Linked DNA regions of Homo sapiens: region 1 is linked to region 2. A link means that fine-mapping ties the variant in region 2 to the expression of a gene that starts in the linked region. Tissue or cell type: subcutaneous fat. Region 2 holds a variant in brackets; the other region holds the start of a gene. All regions are shown on one strand. Distances are from middle to middle.

Evidence for each region. PIP is the estimated chance that this variant, and not a neighbour inherited with it, causes the effect.
Region 1: it holds the start of NEDD8, and the variant in region 2 is fine-mapped to the expression of NEDD8 in subcutaneous fat (GTEx, PIP 0.98).

Annotation. Positions count from the first base shown.
Region 1 is chr14:24,231,304-24,233,803 of GRCh38, reverse strand. NEDD8 (NEDD8 ubiquitin like modifier) reads left to right here and starts at 1,437. Exons shown (of 4, transcript NM_006156.3): 1 at 1,437-1,554. The coding sequence starts at 1,537. NEDD8-MDP1 (NEDD8-MDP1 readthrough) reads left to right here and starts at 1,437. Exons shown (of 7, transcript NM_001199823.3): 1 at 1,437-1,554. The coding sequence starts at 1,537. GMPR2 (guanosine monophosphate reductase 2) reads right to left here and starts at 875. Exons shown (of 10, transcript NM_001002002.3): 1 at 827-875; 2 at 464-585; 3 at 206-325. The coding sequence starts at 550. RefSeq lists enhancers at 1,247-1,541, 708-1,573.
Region 2 is chr14:23,357,178-23,359,935 of GRCh38, reverse strand. It overlaps EFS (embryonal Fyn-associated substrate), which reads left to right. Exons shown (of 6, transcript NM_005864.4): 4 at 1-619; 5 at 971-1,060; 6 at 2,276-2,758. The coding sequence ends at 2,710. Among named protein-coding and RNA genes, the nearest start is that of SLC22A17, 5.7 kb to the right of the region's middle. The variant T/C (reference allele first, on the strand shown) is at 1,506.

The sequences.
Region 1 (2,500 bases), 870 kb before region 2:
ACTTAGCTTTGAATCTCACTAATTCAGATGGCCTTTTGAACTTATCAGATAAAGGGCTTCAGTAGTGGAAAAAACCGTAAATCAGAGCATCCTGACTGCTAACTGCCAGAGAACTGACTGGGCATGGGGGTGGGGATGCAAACACCTCTGCAGTCAGCTGGGCTAACTGGACACCAATAGGGATGGGGCATGAGGAAAGCCCTACCTTACAGAGAACCTTGGCCATCTCAAAGGTGCCCACAGTATCCATATTGGCAGCAATGATGGGAACCCCAGAGTATGTCTGCTTTGAGTTCCGAAATGAAAAGGATCTTGTGAGATCCACCTGCAGATATGAACAGGAAATTGACCATTTCATTAATCCAAAAAACGTACCATATTAGGACAAGGACAGGCATCTTTCTTGGTTGTGGCCCACCGGGAGCGTGGGGTCAAGAAACAGCAAGTAGAGAAGCTTGCTCACCTCACTTCGAGACTTAAGGGTACTGCGTTTGGGCCTCAAAAGGACATCCTTGAAGTCCAGTTTCACATCGTTGTCAATATGAGGCATGGCGCTTAGCCTCGGGGTAGCGATGAATCTGAGGGCTGGAAGGCAGGAAGTCATAAGGACCAATCTTCCCCTGGGCTTTAACGCCCTGTTACGGCTGGTGGCCTCTCTTCGCTTAAGTTGTGGAAGGTCGGGCAAAGGCCGAAGTGTGGTCCCTGAAGCCTGTCACCTCGACCCATCCCGTGGCTGCGATTACCCTAGGGCTCCATCCCAGGTACTGTTTGTTGGGGAGGAGAGCTGGGAAAGGGTTGTGAGAGACCCTGACGGTGCATTCCTTACCCCGCTACACTTCCTTCTTCTACCCCTGCAAAGAGCAATGGGGCAAGAGGCTGATTTAGGGGAACGAAGGAATGTTGGCGACGGGGGGCGGGGAGGGTTCATAACTAGTTTCCGGAATAGAGGTACTCACTTCCTGTTGCCTTGGTCCAGGCGGCAGTTGACCAAAGACCACCTTGCTTAGCAACTAACCTCGTGCAATCCCGCTAAGCCTTCTGGGCCACGCCAACAGGTTCCTCTAGTTGCCGGCGAGAACTACTAGCCGACGAATTCCAGCTTCGGCGGCGGCAGGGCGAGGCCTTCTGGATAACAGAGTTCACGCACTGAGGTTGCTGTTGGATCCGAGGGGGTTAGACTACAACTCCCAGGGGGAAACGGGCGGGACCGCCTCCTGGCACGATGGGAGATGTAGTTCGTTCTGCCCCCACTTTTCGCTAGCCCGGGCTCGCCAGGGACTCTCAGAATCGCAGAGTCGTCATCTCTGCTGTTGCTAAACTGGATGCCTCATTCCAATTTACGACGTCACTGAACCGAAACGCGGGAGCAACCCTGAGCCTTTCCGGAACCCAGTGGGGGGGGGGGGGGGGGTGGAGCCAGACAGTGACCCGGAAGTAGAAGTGGCCCTTGCAGGCAAGAGTGCTGGAGGGCGGCAGCGGCGACCGGAGCGGTAGGAGCAGCAATTTATCCGTGTGCAGCCCCAAACTGGAAAGAAGATGCTAATTAAAGTGAAGGTGGGAGCACCTCCAGCCTTGCCAAGACGCAGTAGTACTGGGCTGGCAGCAGTGCCTTACGGGAGACGTGGGGAAGGAAAACCACGCCTTTCCCTAGCCTGGAGGACGCTGACTGCCTCAGGGCTCCGCGCGAGGGGTGGTGGGAAATAGGGGGACCCAGAAGGGCTTTGAGAGCGGGGCCCAGGTCCCACCTGACGACCCTGGGGTATTTTGCCATGCCTGCTTTTTTGCCAGGACTGTGCTATCACCCAGAATGGGGTCGCTTTTGTCGGGTCTCACTGTATTCGAACCCCCGCAGTCATAGAGAAGGCCTAGCAGCGGCTTGACTCCCCCGTCTCTCAGATTCTTGGAGTAAGCGCTGCTCTCCATTCTTCATTCCCAGGGTACCTGCTTCTCCCAGTCCCTAACGTAGGTCGCCTCCGAGCACAGCCCTAAAATCGGGGCCTCCCAAGGGCTAGACTATGAGCCTTTACTGGTGGTTGCCAAGGTGTGGTATCTCACCCGTCCTACAGGAACCAAAGCGGGGAGTGTGTTCAGTCAGTACCTGCCTTTCTGAGCCTGGCATCCTGGACCAGCCTCACTTCCTTGGCTGAGGCAGGTTAGTTACCGCTGCCCTAGTTCTTGCTACTAGCCATGGTTTCCTTCATCTGCATCTCTCAACTCCCGTGGTGGTTCTTCACCAATTTCCAGCCCTCGTTAGTCCTATCTGCTGTTTCCTCTTTTGTGCCTTCAGACAGACAGAGACCCCCCCCCCCACGCCCCCCTCAAAAAAACAAAACTGCTGACAAGTGAAGTCTAATGCTAGTTTGGCCTTTTTGTAGCTAAGTAAATCTATCGTTATTTCATCAGCTTCTTAGCATATTTACCGTACATAATAGTCATTCTTAACCTTCTCTTCCCCAGTCCTTCCAAACTACTTCTTAGCTAAGATTTGAGGTCTAGTATT
Region 2 (2,758 bases):
TGGAGAGGATGATGCTCCCTATGATGTGCCTCTGACCCCAAAGCCACCTGCAGAGCTGGAACCAGATCTGGAGTGGGAAGGAGGCCGGGAGCCGGGGCCCCCCATCTATGCTGCCCCCTCCAACCTGAAACGAGCGTCAGCCTTACTCAATTTGTATGAAGCACCCGAGGAACTGCTGGCAGACGGGGAGGGCGGGGGCACTGATGAGGGGATCTACGATGTGCCTCTGCTGGGGCCAGAGGCTCCCCCTTCTCCAGAGCCCCCTGGAGCCTTGGCCTCCCATGACCAGGACACCCTGGCCCAGCTTCTGGCCAGAAGCCCCCCACCCCCACACAGGCCCCGGCTCCCCTCAGCTGAGAGCCTGTCCCGCCGCCCTCTGCCTGCCCTGCCTGTCCCTGAGGCCCCCAGCCCCTCCCCAGTGCCCTCTCCTGCCCCAGGCCGGAAGGGCAGCATCCAGGACCGGCCTCTGCCCCCACCCCCACCCCGCCTGCCTGGTTATGGAGGCCCCAAGGTCGAGGGGGATCCAGAGGGCAGGGAGATGGAGGATGACCCAGCAGGACACCACAATGAGTACGAGGGCATTCCGATGGCCGAGGAGTATGACTATGTCCACCTGAAGGTGAGCGCCCCTTGGCAGCCCCACCAGGAGGGACCCCAGAGGGACCAAGGGGAGGGGTGTGGAGACCTAGGGCACAGAGGCAGAGCCTCCCTGCCTCCCTTCTGTCCCCCTTCCCTCTACCCTGCAGCCTGGGACCCCAGTACTTGGCCACAACACTTGTACCAGTGCCACACTGTTCCTCCTAGACCCAGCCTGGGGCCACCAGAGCTCTCTGGAGTCAAGGGACTACAACCTCTGATAACAGGAGTGTCCTTCGGAAGGAAGGGGGTCCGGGGAAGGGGCAGAAAGGCCACAGAGGCCACCCCGTCCTGCTCCCCCACCCCGACACTGAGACCTGATCCCCTCCTGCAGGGCATGGACAAAGCTCAGGGATCTAGGCCCCCGGATCAGGCCTGCACAGGGGATCCTGAACTGCCCGAGAGGGGGATGCCGGCGCCGCAGGTGACCCTGGCGGGAATGGTGCTAGAGAAGGGGACAGGGGAGGGAGGAATGGGGACTTGGGAGAAGAACTGAGCCATCAACCGTGGAAGGAAATAGGTTAGGATGGAGTGAGAGTTCACAGGAACCAGGGACAGAGCGGAGGCAAGTTAGAAATCTACAGGAAGGAACTGGACCTTGGAAGAGGATGTTAGGAATTCAGAAAGAGGGGAAAGAATGTGTTGGAGAGGAGTCAGAAAATCAAGCAGCCAGGAGAGCAGAAAGTTTCTGAGTTGTGGGGTCAGAGCTGGGCCTGGGGACTTCTGAGCCTCCTTCCAACTGTGAATTCCTGGGCTCCTAAGAGACCTGGCTTCTAATCCCAGCTTCACTACTGAGAAGCCAGGGGCTTTGAAGCCGTCAGTTAATCTCTCCAGGCCTCAGAAAGTGAGGTGGTTTCCTCAACCCTGCG[T/C]AGAATGGTCGCAACACAATAGCTACCATTTATCAGGTATTTACCAAGTGCCAGACCCTGTGCTAGGCACACTGCACGTGTTAGTATTAATCACAGCCACAGTTAACACTCATCTGGTGCTCACAGTGTGAAATGCACTTTGCTAAGCCCTTTCTGTATATTATCTCAATTGACCTTCACTGCAGCCTCATGAGGTACATACTAGAACTGCACTATCTAGTACAGTAGCCACTAGCTACATATGGCTATTGAGCACTCAAGATAGGCCTAGTTCAAATTGAAATATGCTGCAAATATAAAATGCAGCCTGGATTTTACAGACTCAGTATGGGAAAAATCTCAATAATTTTCATGTTGATTATATGTTGAAATTATAACATTTTTATATTTGGAGTTAGATAAAATATATTAGGGTTTTGTTTTTTTTTTAACCACTTTTAATGTGGCTACTAACACATCTAAAATTTCACATGTGGTTCACATTATGTTTATATTGGACAGTGCAGTCCTAGACTCCCTGTTTTAGAGTTAAGGAAACCAAGTTCAAAGCCTTGTCCGAAATCAAGTTTGAGGTTGTTTGAATCCAGATCTATCTGATATCAAGTGTGGGCACTTCACTGCTGCTCTCTCTAGAATCTAAACTTTCCGATGGGCAGAGGTAAGAGCTAAAAGGATCGCCCTTGGGAAGAAAGAGAGGAAGGAGAAAAGAAGTGAGGGAGGAAATGGCACTCATGAGAATGTTCTCTCTGACCACTCCTCTTGCCCTTCAGGAGGCCCTGTCCCCAGGGGAGCCACTGGTTGTGTCCACCGGAGATCTGCAGCTCCTGTACTTCTATGCTGGGCAATGCCAGAGCCACTACTCAGCCCTGCAGGCAGCCGTGGCAGCCCTGATGTCCAGTACCCAGGCTAATCAGCCCCCGCGCCTTTTCGTGCCCCACAGCAAGAGGGTGGTGGTGGCTGCTCATCGCCTGGTGTTTGTTGGGGACACCCTGGGCCGGCTGGCAGCCTCTGCCCCTCTGAGAGCACAGGTCAGGGCTGCAGGTACAGCACTGGGCCAGGCATTGCGGGCCACTGTGCTGGCTGTCAAGGGAGCTGCCCTGGGCTACCCATCCAGCCCTGCCATCCAAGAGATGGTGCAGTGTGTAACAGAACTGGCAGGGCAGGCCCTGCAATTCACTACCCTGCTCACTAGCCTGGCTCCATGAAGGTCCTTTGGCACAGCTCTGCTCCTCCCCTGCCTGCCAAAGCCCCCC